7 linked regions of the Homo sapiens genome follow. The protein of the gene in region 2 purifies or fractionates together with the protein of the main gene of each other region. This does not show direct contact. Each region holds a gene or a part of one and is shown on either strand. Other genes may lie near its edges.

Evidence for each region.
Region 1: the proteins of DHFR (region 2) and MTR purify together in Homo sapiens (affinity purification with mass spectrometry; one large-scale study listed by BioGRID and IntAct). This does not show direct contact.
Region 3: the proteins of DHFR (region 2) and MYO3B purify together in Homo sapiens (affinity purification with mass spectrometry; one large-scale study listed by BioGRID and IntAct). This does not show direct contact.
Region 4: the proteins of DHFR (region 2) and PPIP5K1 purify together in Homo sapiens (affinity purification with mass spectrometry; one large-scale study listed by BioGRID and IntAct). This does not show direct contact.
Region 5: the proteins of DHFR (region 2) and SBF2 purify together in Homo sapiens (affinity purification with mass spectrometry; one large-scale study listed by BioGRID and IntAct). This does not show direct contact.
Region 6: the proteins of DHFR (region 2) and MAP3K6 purify together in Homo sapiens (affinity purification with mass spectrometry; one large-scale study listed by BioGRID and IntAct). This does not show direct contact.
Region 7: the proteins of DHFR (region 2) and RGPD5 purify together in Homo sapiens (affinity purification with mass spectrometry, with the first as the bait; one large-scale study listed by BioGRID). This does not show direct contact.

Annotation. Positions count from the first base shown.
Region 1 is NC_000001.11:236,847,292-236,850,791, reverse strand, and holds part of MTR (methionine synthase), read right to left. Parts: intron 449-3,500; coding exon 269-448; intron 1-268. UniProt on the Homo sapiens protein: Catalyzes the transfer of a methyl group from methylcob(III)alamin (MeCbl) to homocysteine, yielding enzyme-bound cob(I)alamin and methionine in the cytosol. MeCbl is an active form of cobalamin (vitamin B12) used as a cofactor for methionine biosynthesis.
Region 2 is NC_000005.10:80,625,726-80,628,354, forward strand, and holds the end of DHFR (dihydrofolate reductase), read right to left. Parts: 3' UTR 501-2,629; downstream 1-500.
Region 3 is NC_000002.12:170,184,647-170,188,146, reverse strand, and holds part of MYO3B (myosin-IIIb), read right to left. Parts: intron 1-3,500.
Region 4 is NC_000015.10:43,576,709-43,580,208, reverse strand, and holds part of PPIP5K1 (inositol hexakisphosphate and diphosphoinositol-pentakisphosphate kinase 1), read left to right. Parts: intron 1-1,088; coding exon 1,089-1,190; intron 1,191-2,052; coding exon 2,053-2,139; intron 2,140-2,257; coding exon 2,258-2,333; intron 2,334-2,477; coding exon 2,478-2,587; intron 2,588-2,673; coding exon 2,674-2,756; intron 2,757-2,969; coding exon 2,970-3,101; intron 3,102-3,260; coding exon 3,261-3,382; intron 3,383-3,500. UniProt on the Homo sapiens protein: Bifunctional inositol kinase that acts in concert with the IP6K kinases IP6K1, IP6K2 and IP6K3 to synthesize the diphosphate group-containing inositol pyrophosphates diphosphoinositol pentakisphosphate, PP-InsP5, and bis-diphosphoinositol tetrakisphosphate, (PP)2-InsP4.
Region 5 is NC_000011.10:10,291,420-10,295,631, forward strand, and holds the start of SBF2 (myotubularin-related protein 13), read right to left. Parts: upstream 2,801-4,212; 5' UTR 2,651-2,800; coding exon 2,596-2,650; intron 1-2,595. UniProt on the Homo sapiens protein: Guanine nucleotide exchange factor (GEF) which activates RAB21 and possibly RAB28. Promotes the exchange of GDP to GTP, converting inactive GDP-bound Rab proteins into their active GTP-bound form.
Region 6 is NC_000001.11:27,360,462-27,363,961, reverse strand, and holds part of MAP3K6 (mitogen-activated protein kinase kinase kinase 6), read left to right. Parts: coding exon 1-45; intron 46-413; coding exon 414-520; intron 521-940; coding exon 941-1,111; intron 1,112-1,208; coding exon 1,209-1,321; intron 1,322-1,711; coding exon 1,712-1,871; intron 1,872-2,094; coding exon 2,095-2,257; intron 2,258-2,334; coding exon 2,335-2,442; intron 2,443-2,566; coding exon 2,567-2,616; intron 2,617-2,709; coding exon 2,710-2,805; intron 2,806-2,953; coding exon 2,954-3,041; intron 3,042-3,123; coding exon 3,124-3,257; intron 3,258-3,500. UniProt on the Homo sapiens protein: Component of a protein kinase signal transduction cascade. Activates the JNK, but not ERK or p38 kinase pathways.
Region 7 is NC_000002.12:109,835,805-109,839,304, reverse strand, and holds part of RGPD5 (RANBP2-like and GRIP domain-containing protein 5/6), read right to left. Parts: intron 3,487-3,500; coding exon 1,263-3,486; intron 372-1,262; coding exon of another isoform or gene 268-371; exon of another isoform or gene 1-267.

The sequences.
Region 1 (3,500 bases), on a different chromosome or scaffold from region 2:
GGCGTGATCCCAGCTCAATGCAACCTCCACCCTCCTGGGTTCAAGCGAGTTCATCAGGCTCTGTTATGTTCTCCAGTCTGTTTGTTACACAAGTTAAAACTCTACTAAAGAAAAAAAATAAGGTCTCCTACATTTCAGAAAAACAATTTACTAACTAAGAATGTTAACATTTCATCAGCCAATAAATATATAAGTTAGTTCTAACCATTCATTAGACCCATGGGACAAATTTGAGCCATGACTTGGGAGAGAACATGCCTACACTTACTTTAATGACTTTTGTTGCATGGATAAAATTAATGGCATACAAGTTGTGTTCCTCCATTCCAGTCCCAATGGTTAGGATATTAGGGTCAAAAATAATGTCATTTGGATTAAAGCCCAGTTTTTTCACAAGCAGATGGTAGGCCCGGGTGCACACTCTGATTTTTGTGTCTGTTTCTGTTGCCTAGGGAAAAGAGCAAAAGATGTAGTTTGAAATAGAAAAATTATCTATTAAAATATTAATATTAAATACCTGTTATTTTATTTTAATAAAATATTAATATTAAAATATTAAGTGTTATACATTAGAGCACATTTCACTCACTGAAAACACTCAAGTGTCAATGCTTGGATTTCACAGAAATCTAAATGCCAAGCAGCTTCCGATCACTTATCAAATTATCTCAGAGGAGAGACTGGTTTAAAGATCTCTTTGTGTTTTCACAAACACAGCAGCTATACTCTTTCTGCAAAAAATCAAACCTTAAACATATACACACATATGGTATATTATGAAAAAGCTTCTAAAAATACATGCATATGATAAAAAATCAAATACTACTAAAGAAGAGATTAACATGTAAGTGCCCCTTCCTCTCTTGACCTGACAGCAGTGTCACAACCTATCACCCAGGAAACACTGCCATTGCTTTCTCAGATCTTCTTGCAAAAACATTCTAAGCATATTCAAGGATATGCATTTATTCCTCACCTTCACCCATTTTAACACTGGCCTAACATGTGTCTTAAGTCATAAATACAAATTAGTCTTTACCTTCAAAATAATGTCCCTAAAAGGCAAAACACTAACTCCGGCAAGGCTCATCCCCCAGCTGCTTCCCAAAAGCCTCAGAATCTCAGCCTCCATCTCCAATCTCATCTCCTACCATTTGCCCTCTCCTCTACTCCGCACCTCCTACATTGCTCCTTTGGTGTTTTTGAAACCCGTCAAGCTTGTTCCTCCCTCAGCAACTTTCATTTATTGCTGCCACTACCAGAACATACCATGACATGGCTTTGTGCTTCACAGAACTAAGGCTTCTGCCCAAGTGCCCCCTTTTCAGAGCCTACCTTAAATCACCCTCTCTAAACCAGCCACTTCCACCCTTCCCCACCTCCTCCATTCTTCTTCGGAGTATTTCTTTCCAGAAATTGTATTATTTTGGCAACATCTTTAGTATTTTTCGTTGTTTTATTACTTGTTAATTGGTAAACTCCTCTCCCCTAGATAGAATGCCAGTCTTGCTTTATCCCCAGTGCCCTGAGCAGTGCCTGTCAAAGTAGGTGCTCAACATTATGTATGAATGCTGCTTTTACTCAAAGTATTTCTGAACTTTGTCATGGAAACTGTCTTCAGATCAAATTTACAACCTCAACACAGGGTATTCACCAAATTACATCCTGAATTATTTCTGGTTGTATGAAAAATCAAATCTACTCTTAAAAAATGATTACTTGCTATCACTCCAGAGATAAGAAAAAATAAGTCACAATTCTGAAGGTCAATTCTCAATGAACGCGAAAAATGTTCTTGAAAAATGGCCAACCCTACTGCAATCTATATTGCAGACTTCTGTGGAGATGAGGGGGTAGGGACACGGACATAGGTCAAGTGCATCTAGTGAGGCCCTAGACAACAGAAATGAGGAGTAGGGGAATTATGAAAAGAACTCTCTCTTAGATCTAGCCTTTTGATCACTTACTACTTTGGTATTCTTTTTCAACTGTTTTCTTTGGTCTCTTTAATCGCTCTCTGCAGCTGGTGGGGTGAGACTTCACCTCTACTTGGGAGGGAAGTGCCTCCAGGACTTAGCAGACAAAATGGCCCAGGGAAAGGGAGACAGGAAGTGGTCTCTGTGGCCTCACTGCACCCAGGCTTTAGGGAAGGTGGCGAGCTTTCGTCTTCCTTAATGGAATTTTCTCAATGCTTACTTCCTCTGCCTTCAGTTAGAGTGAAAAGGTTAAGGTTGAGACTGAGATGTATGTCAGAAAAAACTGGTCAGAAACAGCCCATTTGCAGCTGCCTTTAGGCTTGAACTTTTAAAGTCTACCCTTCACCAGACAGCCCAATAGAGTTCTAGGCTCTAGGTTCATGGCTCATCTAAGCTCACTAAGAGAGAAGGCACAGGGGCGACCAATGCTACTAGTATTACTGAGTAACCTAGTCTGGTTGGTAGATGAAGAAGTCAAGGTCCTGGTCATTCCTCATCTGAGCCATGAATATTATCTGGCCAAGCAGGGCAGGTTGAAGTGAACAGTATGTTACCCACAGGAGAGTAGGGTGTAGGGCCCAGCTGTATACCAAAGACAGCCCTGCTTGTGGGACAAGCAGGTGCATCCTCACAGGACAGGAATTCATTTCTAGAACCAAAACAGAGTCATCAACTCTAACCTCCATAAGGATGAAGCCCTTGTCAAATTGTTCTCATGGCGTCTAGCACAGTATCTGTGCCACATTAACAGATACTCAACCTCTGTCACTTGATTAAACAATGACTCTCAGAGTGAACACGGCATTGGTGTACAGGCCTTTGTCAGGAGCAGGTCATATCTCATATCACGTAAGGTTCACCAAGCTTCTGTCTTACTCCTCACCAGGGCTGTGGGACAGACACACTAATAAAGCCTCAATCGTGCTGGTGGATTTCAGAGATCCAGAATAGAAGTTCAGTAAAACAACGGAATGGCAGCTTTACTCCATCAGGAAGGGCTTTCAACTCTGGTTGCACATTACAATACCCTGGAGGGATTTCTGTTTGCTTGTTTTTTATAATAGTAACACCTCACCCTGAACCAGTTAAATCAGAATCTGGAGATGGGGTCTCAGCAAGTGTTTTGTAAAAGCCCCTTAGTGATGCTAATATAAAGCCAGGTGAGAACCACCAACAGGTGAGATGTGGCACCTTCTTCAGTTGGAGTAGAAGAAAAACTCAGTGAGATTCTAAGCAGCAAGAAGGAAGGAATAAATGCCATTTATAGCTTTATCAAACAGGTTTACTCTTAAGCCATAGAGAAGCTAGACTGTGACCAGTGAGTAGAAGGCTTTACTTAAGAAGCTCATGGCTCAGATTCTGCTAAAATATCACACACTCAGGCAGTAATGCAATAAAACAATTTTTGATTTGGTCATCAAGGCAGACACTGTGAGGAAGAGAAGGACAATGTGTAGAAGACATCTAGATTCTTTAATGTAGTCTGACAAGGAGCAGAGATCGAACAGGGCTAACTTCAGAGGT
Region 2 (2,629 bases):
TTCACTGAGATGTTCTAGAGACGGGAATTAAAACTTGTTTTTTTCTTCCTTAGAGTGCAAAAGCAGTGCCTTACAAACTTAAGCAGGCTTCAGATTATCTGAGATGTTTAAAAGGCAGATTCTGGGACCCATCCCTGATTCAGGAATAGCAGGTACAACATTTTCAGAAACATTGCCTTTAAGGAAGCGGGTATGTCACACACAATTTTAATCTCACAGAAACATAAAATGTGCTAACCTGAATATTTAAAACATATGTTTTATTATTTACATGTTTGCCCCAAGTTATCACCTTACAGTGCTGTTCCATAAGCCAATCTGGAAAAAGTGAGACTTGATTTTGATTGTTTCCTAACAAACAACTGATCTTTGTTTTGTGTGACTCTTGGCTAATTCTATGTTTTCCTTTCTCTATTTTTAAGCTGACCATGGAGATATATTGCCATCAAAGTTTCTTTGAAATTTTGTGTGGGGTGTACAAAGAACAACAGGAGGCCAGCACTTATTAACAAGTGTAACTCTTTATTAAGATGGAATTGTTCTTATTAAAGAAATAGATGAAAATGGTTAAGTACAATTAAATGGCTCCAAAAGTCTTACAATGAAAACAACAGTCCTGCCAGTTGTTCTTTCCAGAGGCAAATACTTTTCATTCTCTTAGTTTTTCCTTCCGTTAGTTACCTTCATGGGTTTTTCCAAATTATTGTTTTTTTTTAGTTTTTCAAGTGAATGCATATATTAATACATAAAATTTTAAAAAGGCTTTTCAGTTTATAATGCATCCTAACAGTCCCCTGCCCCATCCCTCCTAATTCTCCAGAGCAATGACTTTTAACTCTTTTAGCAATGTCTTCTGTTTTTTTCCTCACATAACTTAGTCATTTCATTATTATATATTATATAGTGATTTCTGGATATGACAGATGAGGATTTAGCTCTTACACCATCACAATCTTCACTTTTCCTCCCATATTGTCCCAGAGTAGTTACCATATTTAGGGGCTAAGCAGTCACATCATTATGACTGTGTACATACTGCTCCTTGTTGAGAAAAACAGTGTATTATGCTCTTCCTATCCTGTACTTCTTTCTGCCCTAGAATGATTGCCTAACCAACCCTTTCCCCTTGTTTTTTTTTTTTTTTTTTTTACTTTTGCTTTATCTTCAATGAACTTCTTTCCAAATGCCCCAAATCTGGCAATAAGTTATTATTTTTAAGAGAAGGGATCTCACTAAGGTGGCCAGGCTGGTCTGGAACTCTTGGGCTCAAGTCGTCCTGCTGCTGAGCCTCCTGAGTAGCTGGGACTACAGGCATGGGCCATTCCACCCAGCTAACCGATTAATATTTTTACTGTTCCTTTTTAAAGCTAGCTCCATAGCTGGAATATTGCCTGTGTTGGATCCTATTTGCTGGATTCATGTCATTCTCTGGTTTGTGTACTCCTTCATTTTGCTGGAGTATTTTCTCCAACAGCTTCCCTAAAAAGGGCACATGGAGGTAACCCCTGAGTCTTTGCTTGTCTAAAAATGTATTATTTTACCTTCACCCTTGATTATTTGGGTGAATATAGATTTATCAGTTGAAAATAACTTTCTAGAATTATGAAGGCATGGTTCCATTGTTTTCAGATTCCTTTTCGAGACAAGGTCTCTTCTGTCACCCCGGCTGGAGTGCAGTGGCACAATCACGACTCACTGCAGCCTTGAACTCGTGGGCTCAATTAATTCTTCCATCTCAGCTTCCTGACTAGATGGGAATACAGGTGTGCGCCACAATGCCCAGCTAATTTTTGTGTTTTTTGTAGAGATGGGGCTTTGCCATGTTGCCCAAGCTGGTCTCAAGTGATCTGCCTGCCTTAGCCTCCCAAAGCGCTGGGATTACAGGTGTGAGCCACTGTGCCTGGCTGGTTTTTCTTTTATTTTCTCTCTACTTCATTCATTTCTCAAAGGCATCTGAAACTCCCTGGGCCCAAAACCAAAGTCAAACTCCATCAGAATATCCTGCTACTTATAACTTTAAAATATATCTTAAATCACAATTTCTTACTACATGCAACCCTTTGGTTCAAGCAACCATCATCCCTCACTTGAACTTATAATTGGTTTTCCTGCTTCTGTATTTTTTTAAATTATAAAATACTTCAAATAAACCATGTGTGGCCTTATACTTTTTACTACATAAAAAGAATGAAGATGTGCCGGGTGTGGTGGCTCAAGCCGGTAATCCCAGCACTTTGGGAGGCTGAGGTGGGTGAATCGCTTGCGGTCACGAGTTCGAGACTAGCCTGACCAACATGGTGAAACCCCATCTCTACTAAAAATACAAAATACAAAAATTAGCCGGGCGTGGTGGCGCGCACCTGGTCCTAGCTACTTGGGAGCCTGAGGCAGGAGAATCGCTTGAATCTGGGAAGGCGGAGGTTGCAGTAAGCCGAGGTCACACCATTGCATGCTAGCCTGGGCAACAAGAGCGAAACGCTGTCTAAAAAAAAAAGAACTTACATACTTAAACATCGAATTGCTTTAAGTGTTTGGCATTCACTGTTCCCGTGCATGCCAGCAGCTTCTTACTGCAAACACCTGAGACTTGCTATAGAGCAGCTGGACTATGTTCCGCCCACACACAGGA
Region 3 (3,500 bases), on a different chromosome or scaffold from region 2:
GCACCTAACACTGAAGCACTCTGATATGTAAATTTTAGAGCTAAAGAGAGGCTCCAATAAATTAATAGCTAGAGACTTCAACACCTCACTTTAAGCATCGAACAGATCATCCAGACAGAAAATCAACAAAGAAACATTGGACTTTATCTGCATTACAGACCAAATGGACCTATTAGATAGTTACAGAACATTTCATACAATGGCTGCAGAATACACATTTTCCCCAGCACATATATCACTCCCAAGGATAGATCATATGTTATGCCACCAAATTAGTCTTAAAAAATTCAAAAGAATTGAAATTATATCAAGTATCTTCTCCAACCATGACGGATTAAAACTAGAAATCAGTAACAATAGGAATTTTGGAAACTGTACAAACACATGGAAATTAAACAATATGTTCCTGAATCACCAGTGGGTCAATGAAGAAATTAAGAAGGAAACATAAAAGTGTATTGTATCAAATGATAATAGAAACACTACATACCAAAACCTACACGATACAGTGAAAGCAGTGCTAAGAGGAATGGTTATAGCTATAAGTGCCTACATACAAAAAAGTAGAAAAACTTCAAATAAACAACTTAATGATGCATGTTAAAGAACTAGAAAAGTGGCTGGGCACAGTGGCTCACACCTGTAATCCCAGCACTTTGGGATGAAGCAGGCAGGTCACTTGAGGTCAAGAGTTTGAGACCAGCCTGGCCAACATGGTGAAACCTCATCTCTACTAAAATACAGAAATTAGCCAGGTATGCTGGCACACACCTGTAATCCCAGCTACTCAGGAGGCTGAGGCAGGAGAATCACTTGAACCCAGGAGGCAGAGGTTACAGTGAGCCAAGACTGTGTCACTGCACTACAGGCTGGGAAACAGAGCAAGACTCCATCTGAAAAAAACAAAACAAAAAAAAGAACTAGAAAAGCAAGAGCAAACCAAAACCAAAATTACTATAAGAAAAGAAATAATAAAGATCAGAGCAGAAAGAAGTAAAATTGAAATGAAGAAAACAACACCAAAGTCAAGGAAACAAACAGTTTGTTTTTTGAAAAGATAAATAAAATTGACAAACCTTTTTGTTTTTTGAAAAGATAAATAAAATTGACAAACCTTTAGCCAGACTTAAAAAAAAAAAAAGACAACTCAAATAAATATAATCAGAGATGAAAAGGAGACATTACAACTGATACCACAGAAATCCAAATGATCATTAGTGGCTACTATGAGTAACTATATATCAATAAATTGGAAAAATCTAGAATAAATGGGTAAGTTCCTAGACATATACAACCTACCAAGATTGAACCATGAAGAAATCCAAAAACTAAATAGACCAGTAACAAATAAAGAGATCAAAGCCATAAAAATGTCTCCCAACAAAGAAAATCCTGGAACCTGATGGCTTCACTGCTGAATTTTACTAAACATTTAAAGAAGAACTAATGCCAATCCTACTCAAGCTATTCTGAAAAATAGAGGAGGAGGGAATACTTTCAAACTCATTTTATGGGGCCGGTATTAGCCTGATACCAAAACCTGACAAAGGCACATCAAAAAAAGGAAACTACAGGCTAATATTCCTGATGAATGTAGAAGTAAAACTCTTCAACAAAATATTAGCAAACCAAATTCAACAATACATTAAAAAGATTATTCATCCTGACCAAGTGGGATTTATCCCAGGAATGCAAGTATGGTTCAACATATGCAAATCAATCAATGTGATACATCATATCAACAGAATGAAGGACAAAAATCATATGATCATTTCAGTTCATGCTGAAAAAGCATTTGATAAAACTCAACATCACTTCATGATAAAAACCCTAAAAAAAACTGGGTATAGAAGGAACATACCCCAATACAATAAAAGTTGCATATGACAGACCCACATACTGAATGGGGAAACATTGAAAGCCTTTCCACTAATATCTGGAATATGACAAGGATGCCCACTTTCACCACTGTTACTCAGCATAGTCCTGGAAGTCCTTGCTAAAGCAATCAGACAAGAGAGAGAAATAAAAGGCATCCAAATTGGAAAGGAAGAAGTCAAATTAGCCTTGTTTGTAGATGGTATGATCTTATATTTGGAAAAACCAAAACACTATTAAAAAACTACTAGAACTGATAAATTCAGTAAAGTTTCAGGATACAAAATCAACATACAAAAATCGGTAGCATTTCTATATTCCAATAGCAAACAACTGGAAAAAGAAATCAAGAAAGTAATCCCATTTGCAATAGCTACAAATAAAATACCTAGGAATTAACCCAAAAAAATGAAAGATCTCTACAACGAAAACTATAAAACACTGATGAAAGAAATTGAACAGGACACACATGAAAAGGGAAAGATATTCTATGTTCATAGTTTGAAAGAAGCAATATTGTTAAAACGTCCATACTACCCAAAGCAATCTACAGATTCAATGCATTCCCTATCAAAATACCAATGTCATTCCTCACATAAATAGAAAAAACATCATAAAATGTATATGGAGCCACAAAAGACCCAGAATAGCCAAAGCTATCCTGAGCAAAGCAAACAAAACTAGAAGAATCACTTTACCTAACTTCAAATTATACTACAGAGCTATAGTAACCAAAACAGCATGGCACTGGCATAAAAACAGTTATATAGACCAATAGGACAGAATAGAGAACACAGAAACAAATCAATGCATTCACAGTGAACTCTTATTTGACAAAGCTGCCACAAACATACATTGAGGAAAGGACAGGCTCCTCAATAAATGGTGCTGGGAAAATTGGTTATCCATATGCAAATGAATGAAATAAAATCTAAATGGATTAAAGACTTAAGTCTAAGACCTCAAACTATGAAACTACTCAAAGAAAACAATGGAGAAACTCTCCAGGACGTTGGTCTGGGCAATGATTTCTTGAGTGATACCCTACAGGCACAGGCAGCCACAGCAAACATGGACAAATGGGATTACATCAAGTTTAAAACTTCTGAACAGCAAAGGAAACAATAAACAAAGTGAGGAGACAACCCACAGAATGAGAGAAAATATTTGCAAACTATCCATCTGACAAGTTATTAATAATGAGAATATATAAGGAGATCAAACAACTCTATAAGAAAAATCTAATAATCTGATTTTAAAATGAACAAATGACCTAAACAGATATTTCTCAAAAATGGCAAATAGGTTTATGAAAAGGTGCTCAAAATCAATAATCAGAGAAATGTAAATCAAAATTACAATCAGATATCATCTCACCCCAGTTAAAATGGCTTTTAACCAAAAAAACTAAGCAATAACAAATGGCTGGTGAGAATGTGGAGAAAAGTAGACTCTTGTACACTGTTGGTGGGAATATAAATTAACACAATCACTATGGAGAACAGTATGGAGGTTCTTCAAAAAACTAAAAATAAAACTACCATATGATTCAGCAATCCCACTGCTAGGTACACCCCAAAGGAAATGTTATCAGTATATTGAAGAACTATCTGCACTCCCAT
Region 4 (3,500 bases), on a different chromosome or scaffold from region 2:
GGAGTTTGAGACCAGCCTGACCAACATGGTGAAACCTCGTTTCTACTACAAATACAAAAAATTGGCCAGGCTCAGTGGCTTCCGCCTGTAATCCCAGCACTTTGGGAGGCCAGGGTGCGTGGATCACCTGAGGTCAGGACTTCGAGACCAGCCTGGCCAACATGGTGAAACCCCATCTCTACTAAAAATACAAAAAAAAAATGAGCCAGGCATATTGGTGGACGCCTGTAATCCCAGCTACTTGGGAGGCTGAGACAGGAGAATCACTTGAACCCGGGAGGAAGAGATTGCAGTGAGCCGAGATCATGCCGCTGTACTCCAGCCTGGGTGACAAGAGTGAGACTCCATCTCAAAAAAAAAAACCCAAAAAAAAAAAAAATTAGTCAGCCGTGGTGGTGGTTCCCTATAATCTCAGCTGCTTGGGAGGCTGAGGCAGTAGAATCACTTGATCCCAGGAGGTGGAGGTTGCAGTGAGCTGAGATCATGCCATTGTACTCCAGCCTGGGCAACAAGAGTGAAACTCTATCTCAAAAAAAAAAAAAAAAAAAAAAAAAATATATATATATATATATATATACACACACACACACACACACACACACACACACACGTACACATATATGTATATATGTGTATATATGTACGTATATATGTATATATACACATACATATGTGCATCTATATACACATATGTGCATCTATATACACATATGTGTGTATCTATATGCGCATACATGTGTGTATATACACAAACTGTACACATACGTGTGTGTATGTACACATACGTGTGTGTGTGTGTGTGTGTGTGTGTGTGTGTGTGTGTGTATATAATCGAAGCCCCTATGTACTCCTCCCTAGTAACATCCCCTCCCCATCCCCAGAGGGAACCACAATCCATAATTTGGTGTTTGTCATTCCTTGTATTTATTTATATTTGTACTACATAAATATGGGTATTTGTTTGTATGTTTTTAGACTTTATATTAAGGTATTCTTCTGCCTGCAGCCTGCTTGTTTTTGTGAGCTTCATTCCTCTGAGTAGTTCTGGTTTATTCATTTTTACAGGGCTTCTTTGTTTCTCTTTCTAGGAACACCATAATGCGGGAGCTTGCCCCACAGTTCCAGATTCCATGGTCCATCCCCACGGAGGCTGAGGACATTCCCATTGTTCCCACCACATCTGGCACTATGTAAGCAAAAGCAAAAAATCTGGAGTAACCTACTTAAGACCCATGGGATTCCTTAAGCCAGGCTAATGGTTACTTCCTGACCCCACACTATCTGACTAACGGAGCCTAGGCCTCTTATACACAGTCTTCTTAACTCCACTTATATTCCCCCGCCGTTTTTTTTGTTTTGTTGTGTTTGTTTTTGAGACAGAGTCTAGCTCTGTTGCCCAGGCTGGAGTGCAGTGGCATGATCTCGGCCCACAGCAACCTCCACCTCCTGGGTTCAGGTGAGCACATCTGGCTAATTTTTGTGTTTTTAGTAGAGATGGGGTTTCATCATGTGACCAGGCTGATCTTGAACTCCTGACGTCAAGTGATCCACCCGCCTCGGCCTTCCAACGAGCTGGGATTACAGGCATGAGCCACCATGCCCAGCCTCCATTTATATTCCTAATCTCAGTTCCCTTTTCTTTTTCTTTCTTTTTTTTTTTTTTTTTTTTTTTTGCGACAGGATCTGGCTCTGTCTCCCAGGCTGGAGTGCAGTGGTGCACTCATGGTTCACTGCAGCCTCTATCTCCTGGGCTCAAGTGATGCTCCCACCTCAGCCTCCCAAATAGCTGGGACCACAGGCGTGTGGCACCATGCCTGGATAATTTTTTTTCTTTTAACTTTTTTTATAGAGACAGACTCACCCTATGTTGCTCATGCTCACCCTATGTTTCTCCTGGGCCTGAGTGATCCTCCCACCTCAGCCTCCCAAAGTGCTGAGATCACAGGCCTGAGCCCTGCTCAGCCCCTCTGTTTTTTTGACATGTCAAGTAATGTGATGACAGCAGGTGGGATGGGGGTGTGGGAGAGGCTCTGATAACATTTATGATCTTAGGATGGAACTTCGTTGTGTCATTGCAATTATTCGTCATGGGGATCGTACTCCCAAGCAGAAGATGAAGATGGAAGTGAAACACCCAAGGTCAGAAGAGTGTCCTAATTTACATAAATAGGTTTTTGTGAGGAAGACTGCATGGGGGGCAAGTCCTGGAGGCTTTGACTGTCTCATGCCACACTGAAGCTTCTCGTTACTTCTTCAGGTTTTTTGCTCTGTTTGAAAAACATGGTGGCTACAAGACAGGGAAATTAAAACTCAAGCGACCTGAGCAGCTCCAGGTAAGGTAGTGAATCTGACCAGGAGGAACAGTGCCATGAGAGAGATAGAGGATATGGCATTGGGAGTCTTGATAAAAGACTAGGATGGAAAGGTAACTGTCTAGGACTTGGCCTTCTGCATGGATACCTTATTATTTCCTCTAGGAGGTGCTGGATATCACAAGGCTGTTGTTGGCTGAACTGGAGAAAGAACCAGGTGGTGAGATCGAGGAGAAGACTGGAAAACTAGAGCAGCTGAAGTCTGTACTGGAGATGTGAGAAAGGGGATAGCAAAAGGGAGCCAATAACAGTGAGAATTGGGGTGCTGGAACAGAACATAAACTGTGACTTTATCCTGCAGGTATGGTCACTTCTCAGGTATAAACCGGAAGGTACAATTGACTTACTACCCTCATGGAGTAAAAGCTTCTAATGAGGGGCAAGGTAAGATGTAGTCCCCCTTACCACTACCTCTCAGATCTTGTGTTCTTTTTATGTTTTTTGTCCATCTTCTTTCCCCACAAGATCTCTTTTTCTTGAGCCTATAGATGACCTTTACCCCAAATTACATCTCTGGTCTCCTCAGAAGACCTAAGGTTTAGATGTTCCCACTATTTTTCTTAGATCTAGACCATTCACTGCCTCTTATTCCTTCAGATCCACAGAGGGAAACTCTGGCCCCATCTCTGTTGCTGGTACTGAAGTGGGGTGGAGAACTGACTCCTGCTGGCCGTGTTCAGGCTGAGGAGCTGGGGCGAGCTTTTCGCTGCATGTACCCTGGAGGACAGGGTGAGTGTTTTGGGGAGTGAACGCATAGCAGGGCCAGGATAAAATGATTAGAGAGTAAGTTGGGGAAAATGAAGGGACAGAGACAGTGGGGGAATGAATATTTTTTCTTCCACGAGTATTTATAGCAGTCCATTTGTGGTCCCCCACCTTTGTCCCCAGGTGACTATGCTGGCTTCCCTGGTTGTGGGCTGCTTCGTCTCCATAGCACTTTCCGCCACGATCTCAAGATCTATGCCTCTGATGAGGGTCGTGTTCAGATGACTGCTGCTGCCTTCGCCAAGGTGCATACTACAGTTCTGTAGTCCCAGTTTCCATTAGGTAGAGAAGCAGAGAGTTTGGAGAACCAGTTGGAGCATTTCAGGGTGCTTGTAGGCCAACTCAGAGAAGTTTCTGCATGTA
Region 5 (4,212 bases), on a different chromosome or scaffold from region 2:
AAAATAAATTTCTATTGTTTATAAGCCACCCAGTTTGAGGTATTTTTGTTATAACAGCCCGAATGGACTAAGGCAAATAGTAACAGAATATAATCCGCGAGCTCCCCTTTCTGGTCTCACTTCGGCTGGATGTGCTTAGACTCTCCTATTTCCCACTCAAGCCAGTGCTTCGGGCAGGTGGGCTAGTGACTTTTTCCGAATAGACTAAGGCAAATAGTAACAGAATATAATCCACTAAACACACACACACACACACACACACACACACACACACACACAGACTCCATGTAGATGTCAATAAATGATTAAGAGTTTAGTGAGGAACAAGATATTTACATAGTTTCAAAGTACATGGCAAAAACAATTAAGTATTAACTTTACAGTGGAGAAGCCTCGCAGATATTACTTATATCAAGTAATCAAAGTAAAAATAACCAACAATGAAACAAAGTGAAATTGTGCACCACCTGACAGGATGCAGTGAGCATCACTTCTGTGATATCCTTCCCACGTGCATATTCGTATGTATCTAATCATGAAGGAACAGACAATCCCAAATTGAGGGGGCAGCCTACAAAGTGACTGACCTGTAATTGTTAAATATGTTAAGGTCATGAAAGTCAGGAGAAGATAAAGGAAATGTTCCAGATTGAGGGAGACAAAAGAGACATAACATGAATGCAACACATATTGCTAAACTGGATCCTTTTGCCAGTAAAGAGATTACTAGCACAATCAACAAAACTTGAACCAGTCTGAGAACTAGATGGAGTACTGTATCACTATCCATTTCCTGTTTTGGTTATTACACTGTGATCATGTAGGAGAACATTCTTGTTTGCAGAAAATGCACATTAAAGTATTCTGGGATGACAGGGCATCAGGTCAACAGCTTCCTCTCAAATTGTTGGGGGGCGGGTAGAATTTTTTGTACCATTCTTGCAACTTTTTTGCAAGTCTGTTATTGTTTCAACATTGTTGGCCGGGCGTGGTGGCTCAAGCCTGTAATCCCAGCACTTTGGGAGGCCGAGGCCGGTGGATCACGAGATCAGGAGTTCAAGACCAGCCTGGCCAGGATGGTGAAATCCCGTCTCTACTACAAATACAAAAATTAGCGGGCGTGTTGGCGGGCGCCTGTAAATCCCAGCTACTCCGGAGGCTGAGGCAGAGAATTGCTTCAACCCGGGAGACAGAGGTTGCAGTGAGCCAAGATCGCACCACTGCACTCCAGCGTGGGCAACAGAGCAAAACTCCGTCTCAAAAAAAAAAAAAAAAAAAATTGTTTAAAAGTGGGGAGGGGGGGAGGCGGAACAATGTCACTAAAAACTAAAGGTTAAAAAACTGATTTCCCACACTTAATCTTGATAGAAAAGAAACATCAGACTATGCCAAATTACTAGGAAATAAAATTTTGGATCCAGAAGTTTAAACATTTAAACTTTCTCTTTAACAATTGACCTCAATCAGGTCATGACTGGTGAAAGAGAAAAGAACATGAAAGGTTCCCACTAAAGGAGAGGAAGTTCTTAGGAGAGGAATAATGAAAGAGAGAGTGGACCAAGAGTGGGTAGAACAATGGTATTCTGAGCTACCAATGGCTGTAACCATCAGGAAAACACAATCTCAGCATCTCTGAAAAATGAAGGGGCTGTAGAGCTGATATCTCAAATTCCTTGCAAATGTGGGACTAGAATTGCCCTAAAATAGAAGTGGTTTCCCAGCTCAATTTGTTATTACATTATGCTTAGCTACATAGTAATACAAGAGAATACAAATACAGAAATAAACGTGCATGAACCCTGAATTCTCTTAAGTTGTGGAAGTCCGTCAATTAAAGTGTAAAATACAATGCATTTGCCCAATTGTTCCTTACGACGAAAATTCTGTGACAAATAAAAAGAACAATGAAAACACATTAAAGTGAAACAAGATCACCTTCAGCGGTCAGCTGGCTGTCCTTAGTTAAAAGACAAGTCATGTCACTGTGAAGTGACCGTCACATTTGTCCTGAAAGAATAGGGAGCATTTCCTAGAAAGGGGTAAAAGTGCAAAGAATCCTGTCCCCTTCCCTGGTACCACGCGTTCCTTGGGGAGGTCACTAGGCCCCCAACAGCACAGGGGTGAGTTAGCACTGGACTCTCAGCACTTCCTTTCGGAGAGGACAACCCCCTGCGTCACTGGTTACTCACTCAGGATGCAGGGCAGAAGTTTATCCCCGAGGAACTTAGCACAGTTGGCTCCCGCCCTCCCAGCCTTGCGGTCCTGGGCCCAATCTCAGGGCTCTCTCTGCCCCGGGTACCCTGCAGCCTCCAGCGGGAGGGTCGCGAGACCCCAACTCGCCTCCGGCCCGCCCAGCGGGTGCGCCCAGGGGCTGGGCAGACGCGGCGTCTTCCCTCCCCCTACCGTCGTGCCGGCCCCCCCACGCCCACCGCCAGGCTCAGCCCAGCCGAGAAGGCCGGACGCCGACCGCCCGCTCCTCCGAGACTCGGCCTGGCCCTCCCCGACGCCCGTCCCCGACGCCCGGCCCCGCGGAGCCCACTGGACAGCGGCCGGGGGGCGGGGAGGCCCGGGGGCGGTGCCGCCCCACACCCTTACCTGGCTTCTCGTGGTCATAGCCTACCACGATGAAGTAGTCAGCCAGCCGGGCCATGGCCGCCGCCGCCGCGCTCGGGAAGCGGGTCCCCGTCGCCGCCCTCGCCGCCGCCGCCCACCCGGCCCGGGAGGGCTCAGCATTTTCCCTGCAGCGGCAGTAGCGGCAGCGGCAGCGCTTCAGCCATGTTTGACAACCGAGGCGCGCTCTGCGCTTGCGCGGCGCCTAGTGCCCGCTCCTCCCCCGCCCCCACCCGCGCTGGCTCGGCTGCCCCAAGCCCGGGCGGCGAGCCCACCTCCACCCTCCGCGGGCCTCGCGGACTGCTGCGCTGGGGGAGTGGGCGGTCGGGCGTGTTCCCGCCACGCGCCGCCACCGCGGCCCCTGGAGGTGGTTCACTTTGAGGCCTGGATGCTGCTTCACGGCCCCCTCTGCCTCCCTATTTTTCCTAAAGCAGGGGGTCCTTCCTTCCGCCTTCTCTATTCTGTTTGGATTTGGAAGAAGGGATGTGGAGAGTTGAGGGGTCACTTGGAAAGCTGGCTGCTTCCTCTGCTCCCCACCACCACCAAAGATGAAATTCTCCCGCCCTCGGTTGGAAGCAAGGAATTTGCATCGACAGGGCTTTTGCTGCACGTTTCCTGTTTATGTTGTGTAGATGGGAATTTTAGAAACATGCCACCGAGCAGACGGGGGAGGGAGAGGCTTTTACGCAATCCTCCAAGGAGCCTCGGGTTTCAATGCCGGGTGGGCCGGGGGCGGTCGGCCTGGGCTTCCCCCGGAGCGCCCGGGAGAGCCAGATTCCACCGAGGAACGCGGCATCCCCGGGATCCTCCCGAACTGGGCTGGCCTCTCCCTGGGGAGCCCCGCACGCCTCGGCTTGCTTCCCTCGCAGCGGTCCCAGGGCTCTCGCAGCCCGAGCAGGTGGACTTCCAACTTCCCTGCTCAAACATGCACAAAAATGAATAGATGGTCCCGTCCTTCCGTCTCGGGATTATCAAAGTCGCTTGCTTTTTTGTTGAACCTCCTATTGACCATTTCGAATTTGGCTGGTGTGACATTCAGGTGAACTCACTTTGTCATTTGTTAATATCTCACGAAGTTTTAGTAGAATTTGTACAAGTGGTAGACCAAAGTTTTGGAAATCTCCGTGGTTTAGAAGTTGTCTTTGTGGTTGCTTATCACTGCTCACTATTAATTGAGGGTTTGATCCTTCATATTTACACATAAGACAAGGCCTCTTAGCAAAGCGTCTAGTATATAGTAGGTGCCTACAAAATATTTTAAATGAGTAAATGTGCGATTTTCCCCAACGACCAGCAGGAAGCCGCAATGGCTCCAACTCTGAACTGAGAGAGTTGACATCTCAGCTCCTGAAGATTTACTCTGCTGTAATTTACTATTTCCCCTTTCTCTGCCACACTTGTTTCATCTACAAATTGGGAGGGTTGGGCTGCACTAGAACTGAAACTGAAGGAATACTTTAACTCCAGGACCTCTATGTCAGTTGCTAATGGTAAAACTGAATCAGCTGAATTTGCAAACGTGGAGGGAAGATAGTTTGATCCTGAAAATAATTAAACCAAAAAAAAAAAAACCTCAGTCATACCCCGTGCAGCAATCCTCTC
Region 6 (3,500 bases), on a different chromosome or scaffold from region 2:
CCCGACATCATCATGAACTTGCTGCTCTCCTACCGCGATGTGCAGGTGCGTGGTGTTCAGAGAGGCAGTAGGGCAGCTGGCATTTGAGGTCAGACAAACCCAAGTTCAGTTCCTGGCTGGGCCACTTGCTCACTGGTGGCTTTGGGCAAATTATCCAATGTCTCTGAGTGTTGGCCTCCTTATTTGTTAGAGAGGATGAGCATGTCGCTGCCTCCTGGGGCAGTTGTGGGGTTGGGAACGCCCAGCATGGGGCATACAGTAGGTTCTCCCTGTGAGGTGTGTCCGCTGGGCCTGAGGGAGGCGTGCAGAAGATGGTGGCTGGGTGGGATGTCAGGAGTGGGACAGGACCCTGGCTCAAGGTTCCTTGGGGCCTGGAGGCCCATGATGCCAGTGCTTGCCGTTCCCTGATGCAGGACTACTCGGCCATCATTGAGCTGGTGGAGACGCTGCAGGCCTTGCCCACCTGTGATGTGGCCGAGCAGCATAATGTCTGCTTCCACTACACTTTTGCCCTCAACCGGTGAGTGGCAGAGCAAGGGTTAGGTCATAGCCACATAAAGGTTTCCGAAACCTAGGTCTCTGCGTGCAAAGCCATTGCTGTCTGGGATCACTGCTGTTCGGGGAATTTGCTGACCGGGGTCACTGATGTCAATAGGTCCCTGTTGTTCTGAGTTACTGCTGCCTGGGTCGGGGTGGGGGAGGTGGTGCTGCCTGTGGTATGGTCACCGCTGTCCAAGATCACTGCTCCTAAGAGTCATCGCATCTAGGAATCACTTCCATCTGAGGTCACTAGAGAGGTCAGTGCTGGCCAGGGTCATTATCATTTTGAGGTCATTATTGTCAGGCCCCTGGAAGGGTCCCTGCTGGTTCAGTGTCTAGAGGTCCCTGGACAGAGTAGGCCAGGGCCATCAGGGAGGGCCTGAGCCCATCTTTTCCCTAGGAGGAACAGGCCTGGGGACCGGGCGAAGGCCCTGTCTGTGCTGCTGCCGCTGGTACAGCTTGAGGGCTCTGTGGCGCCCGATCTGTACTGCATGTGTGGCCGTATCTACAAGGACATGTTCTTCAGCTCGGGTTTCCAGGATGCTGGGCACCGGGAGCAGGCCTATCACTGGTAAAGAGCACAGTGAGTGGCCGGTGGGCTAAGCTGTGAGATGAGGGGTGGTGCTGTGGGCATCAGTCCAGCCCTGTGCCCCCTACCCCCACCCCAGGTATCGCAAGGCTTTTGACGTAGAGCCCAGCCTTCACTCAGGCATCAATGCAGCTGTGCTCCTCATTGCTGCCGGGCAGCACTTTGAGGATTCCAAAGAGCTCCGGCTAATAGGTGAGCACAGATCCTGGCTCTTGTCTCGTCACCCACAGGGGTTCCGAGGGGCCTGGGAAGAGGGCAGGGAGAGAGCACACTGGGCAAGAGCTAGGATGAGCTCATCCATTTTGGACTGTCCTGCCCATACCCACACCTGGGTCCTCATACCTGTTCTGGGCCCTCAGGAGCCCTCAAACCCACAAATGTTCCCAAACTCACATCTGCGTGTCCATTACATCCTGAATTCCACATATACCTGTGCCTGAGCTCCTGTTCCCACCCGAGATCTTGCCATACTCAATGCCATACTCATATCTATGTTCATGTCCACACTCGGGCCCACAGAAATGGTGGGCCTCACTCACCCCTGCACCCACACTCACTGGAGCCCATGCCTCTCTCCCCCAGGCATGAAGCTGGGCTGCCTGCTGGCCCGCAAAGGCTGCGTGGAGAAGATGCAGTATTACTGGGATGTGGGTTTCTACCTGGGAGCCCAGATCCTCGCCAATGACCCCACCCAGGTGGTGCTGGCTGCAGAGCAGCTGTATAAGCTCAATGCCCCCATATGGTAGGTGGCCCCCTCTGCATTCTTGGCCTGACCTGGGCTGTCAGCTCCTGCACCTATGTCCATTGGCATGCTAGACTGAACCCTGAGCCAATGACCTGGCTGCTTTTAGACCAGTGCCCGTGGCACCCCATGCCAACGTTCTAGCTATATCCAGGCCAGTTTCCTCTCCCTGGCAGTGCTGGTTGGTGCCTGGGCTGAACTGAGGATGTGGCTTTGCATGCAGGTACCTGGTGTCCGTGATGGAGACCTTCCTGCTCTACCAGCACTTCAGGCCCACGCCAGAGCCCCCTGGAGGGCCACCACGCCGTGCCCACTTCTGGCTCCACTTCTTGCTACAGTCCTGCCAACCATTCAAGACAGCCTGTGCCCAGGGCGACCAGTGCTTGGTGAGGCCTGTAGGGGTGGTGGACCCGGGAAAGGGGTAAGCCCCTTCTGACTGACCCCACTCCCCAACTGCCTGCAGGTGCTGGTCCTGGAGATGAACAAGGTGCTGCTGCCTGCAAAGCTCGAGGTTCGGGGTACTGACCCAGTAAGCACAGTGACCCTGAGCCTGCTGGAGCCTGAGACCCAGGTGAAGTCGCTGCTGAGGCCCCTCACTCACCTTTGCTAGGACCTTTTCTGTGGAGCCTTTCTCCCATCCTCAGACCCCTCTCCTGTCACCAGCACTCCCCATCACACCCCATTTCTTCTTGCAGGACATTCCCTCCAGCTGGACCTTCCCAGTCGCCTCCATATGCGGAGTCAGGTGATAGGCGGGACCTGGGGTGACTGGAAAGACGGGAGGTGAGGGTCGCTGCCACCCAGCCTGACGCTTACTGGGTTCTTCATCCCTTCCCAGCGCCTCAAAGCGCGACGAGCGCTGCTGCTTCCTCTATGCACTCCCCCCGGCTCAGGACGTCCAGCTGTGCTTCCCCAGCGTAGGGCACTGCCAGTGGTGCGCAGCCTTTCATGGTCGGGGTACTCTGAGGGCCAGGATGCCCGGGGGGGAGTGGGGGAAAGAAAGGGACGACGTCCGTTGGATGCTCCGGCTTAGGTGGGGACCAAGATGCCCCTCCCGCGGGTCTGACCTCCCCCACCTTCAGGTTCTGCGGCCTGATCCAGGCCTGGGTGACGAACCCGGATTCCACGGCGCCCGCGGAGGAGGCGGAGGGCGCGGGGGAGATGTTGGAGGTGAGGACGCGGGACTGGGAGCTCGCGGAGGGCGAGGGGCCGCGGGCCCTGCTGAACTCCCATCTCACCCCGCGCCCGGCAGTTTGATTATGAGTACACGGAGACGGGCGAGCGGCTGGTGCTGGGCAAGGGCACGTATGGGGTGGTGTACGCGGGCCGCGATCGCCACACGAGGGTGCGCATCGCCATCAAGGAGATCCCGGAGCGGGACAGCAGGTGCGGTGCGTGGCAGCGCGGGTGGGGCTGAGGGCTCGCGAGGGCCGAGTGAGCCGGGCCACGAGCGGAGCGGCTCCTGTGGGCGGGGCCTAGTGGGCGGGCTCGTAGGACCTGAGAGTTCGAGCCCTGTGGACTGGGCCCGTGGGCGGAACAGCCAGGACCGTGCGGGCGGGATTGAGGTCTGGAGGGTCCTGTGGGCAGGGTAGTAAGGGTGGGGAAGGTCGGAGAGGGCTTGTGGGCGGG
Region 7 (3,500 bases), on a different chromosome or scaffold from region 2:
TAGTGGCTAAAGATAAACATTAGATAAAACATAGGTCTTCATTGAGCAGACCTGAAATAGCAGAGCAATGAAGTACATTACAAATCAGCATCCCACTACATTTTAAAAAACAAACCAACAAGGGTGTCATGCCACCAGTCAAAAGGTACTTTGCTTAAACTGGCATTCTTTAACATGCATGTTGTAGTGGTAAGTACTTCATTTCATACAGCCACAGTAATTAATACTTTGCTAAGGGCTACCCAGCTGCTAAAAACTGCTGTTATCTCATACTGAGAATGCTAGTTCTATACCTTTGCTCTCAGGCTGTGAGGAAGGGGTGCTAGTCCAAAAGGCCATGGGATTAGATTTAAAAAGGCTAAAATTAAATCCTAGAAAATAAAGAATATTTCATTTTTTAACATTTTAGGAAACAAAATGAATATGCTTTTAAAACATAAAAAGCCAGAATCCCTCAATTTATACCACCAATCTGACTGTCTTACATATTCATTTATCCCTGTAGTTTCATTCTTTGCTCATTTAATACATGAGCAAGACTGACATACAACACATAAAATGAGAACATCTCAATATCATGTTTTTTTTTGTTTTTTGTTTTTTGTTTTTTTTGGAGACAAAGTCTCACTCAGTCACTCAGTCAGGCTGGAGTGCAGTGGCATGATTTCAGCTCACTGCTACCTCCATCTCCTGTGCTCAAGCGATCCTCCTGCCTCAACCTCCTGAGTAGCTGCTAATTATAGGCACGCACCACCATGCCCGGCTCATTTTTGTATTTTCAGTAGAAACAGGGTTTCACCATGTTGGCCAGGCTGGTCTCGAACTCCTGAGCTCAAGTGATCTGCCCACCTCAACCTCCCAAAGTGCTGGCATTCTAGGAGTGAGCCACCGTGCCCAGCCTCAATATCATGTTTTCTGAGTGACAAAAGAAACAGAACAAATGAAAATGAACACTTTAAAAAAAGACTCACGTTAATGCGCATGATTCAAGCATGAGTCCGTACACTGTACCAAGTTCTTTTGCTCTGCCCTAGCATGATAGAAGTATCTTCCAGTTACTGAAATGTCTTTAACTAAGTTCTCTTGCTCTTTGAAACCTCACCGTGAACTTATTAAGGGAGAAAAAAAATTGCTCAAATATTTTGGGGGTGTTCACAAAGCATCGTTTATATCCCAACATTAGTATCCCACAAAGAGTCTGCATCAAGCTAAACATTAAAAGAAAGAAAAATTGTGCTTAACTTTAACAACAAAGTACCTACCCTTTTCTGGTGTTTTAAATGTGTAGTTGATTGAAGATTCTTCCGTTGGAAAGGAAGCAGAGAGATTTTTGACTTTGCTATCTGAAGACTGTTCGATATCAGAGTTCTTTGACAGTTCACATTTTTTAGGTTCCACTTTGCTTTCAGATCCACTCTGGGCTACTGAACTAGTTTCACTATTGTTACTTTTCAAAGGTGCATTAAAACTAAATCCAAACAAAGACCCAGTGGCAGAACTGTTGCCAAATACAAATGGTTTTGATTTTTCACTACTAAAAATTCTTTTAACAGACTCTGAAACAAATACAAACTTTGGAGGAGAAACCACTGCTTTTGTTGTTGTTTCAGATGTGCTAGACACTTCAACTTCTGAAGCTGCATCTGCTACATCATCACCCTGAATAACATCTGTCCTCTCTCTTGTGGTTTCTTCTAATATAGCTACAGCAATTTTGCCACATGGTGACTCTCTGGGAGTGCTTGACCGAGAAACATGAGGTGTTATCAAAGAATCTTTTTCCTGGGCTGTTTTTGCTTCATCAAAAATTTTCTTAAACGAGTCTGCAACATCCTGTAGTTTAAAACGAACAGCTAAATGCTCTACTTTTCTTTCTCCATCTGCAAAATCACATGCAGTCCACACCCATACTCTTTCTGTCCCTTTCATATTTTGCAAACTCATGTCTGGAGTTATTCTGTGATTGGCACAAAGTTTTAATACTTGGTCCCTTCTCATCACTATACGAACTTGCTTATTATCATAATTCTGTAAAATCTTTATATCACCAATGCCCCTTTCTTTCCATTGACCAACATCTTTATCATATCTGTAGATTTCTGCCCTGTGACTAAAAACAACTTGTTCATTTTCCTCACCACTGGATACTTCAACTAGATCAGGTAAAGGAACAACAGGTTCAAAGTACTGTCCATCTCTCTCTTCTTCTTGAGTAACAACAGATTCTTCATCAGTGCCAACTGAAGTCCCACTCTGATTCAACTTGGCAGGAGACTTAGATAGACTCAAAGCAGATTTAAAACTGAAGTTAGATCCTGTTGTTGACTCATCAAAGCGGAAAAGATTTTTTCTCACAGGGCTACTTGCCAATGGAGAAGCATGTACTGAGCTACTACTGACACTATCATCCAAAGCATCTTCCCTTAAGTCATAGTTATCCCATTCTAATGTGGGCCCAGTGTTTTCAGCATTGGGTTTTATTGTTGTGTCTGAGGCACCGGCCGCACCTGTACCTGAACCCTTATTTTCTTCCTCAGTGACTTTTGTTTGATCATTTGTCAAAAATGTTTTGAAATCTTTCAGTCCACTCTTCATTTCTTCAGCTCTCTGTATTAACTTGGCAGCTCTGCCAGTATCTACAAGTTTATGGGGAGTTTGAAGTGGTATGTCTAACAGAAGCCGCTGGCATTCCTCAAATTTCTGCTTGAATTCTTCAGCCAGCTCTGGTGTTTTAAATTTTGCTGCCAACCGCTCTAGTTTGGCATCACCGTCAGAGAAATCACTGGCTGACCACATCCATGCTCTATCTGATCCAGAGAGGGGCTTCAGGTTCATTGTAGTCGTTATCCAATGATTAGCACACACTTTTAGTACTTGTTCTCTTCGCATCAGCATTCTTAGTTTGCCATTGACCTCGTTTTTGAGAATTTTTAAGTTCCCCAAGCCCCTTTCTTTCCACTGCCTTACCTCAGCATCAAATCTAAATAGTTTTACCCCCTGTGAATACAGAACTTTTTCACCTTCTTCTCCTGTTACAAGTTCTACTTTTTCAGGCATTTGAACTACTGGTTCAAAATGGATGTCATCGCTGTCCTCAGTCTTATAGGCATCATCATCTTTCTCAAAGTCACCGGAAGTGTTTGCTTTATTGGCCATTTTACCGTATCGTGATGAGAATAATTTTTCTCCAGCACCTGAAAATCCCTTGAAATTGAGGTCTTTTTTGCCAAACTGAAATCCTTCTCCTGAAGTTGATTTTGCAACATCTGCAAATGTAAAAGTGCTACTTGTTTGGCCAAAAATCACACCACGGCCCTTCTTCCGGCCACTAATATCCTGAGCCTGGAAGCCAGTATCATTTTCAAGAGGCTTTTCCCTTTTCTTTTCTTGATTTCCTGGTTCCGAAATGCCAAATTTAAATCCATCAGCAGACACAGGGATGGAAAATCCTTCTTTGGTTGACTTAAATTCTGTATTAGAAGAACCCTGAAACATAAATG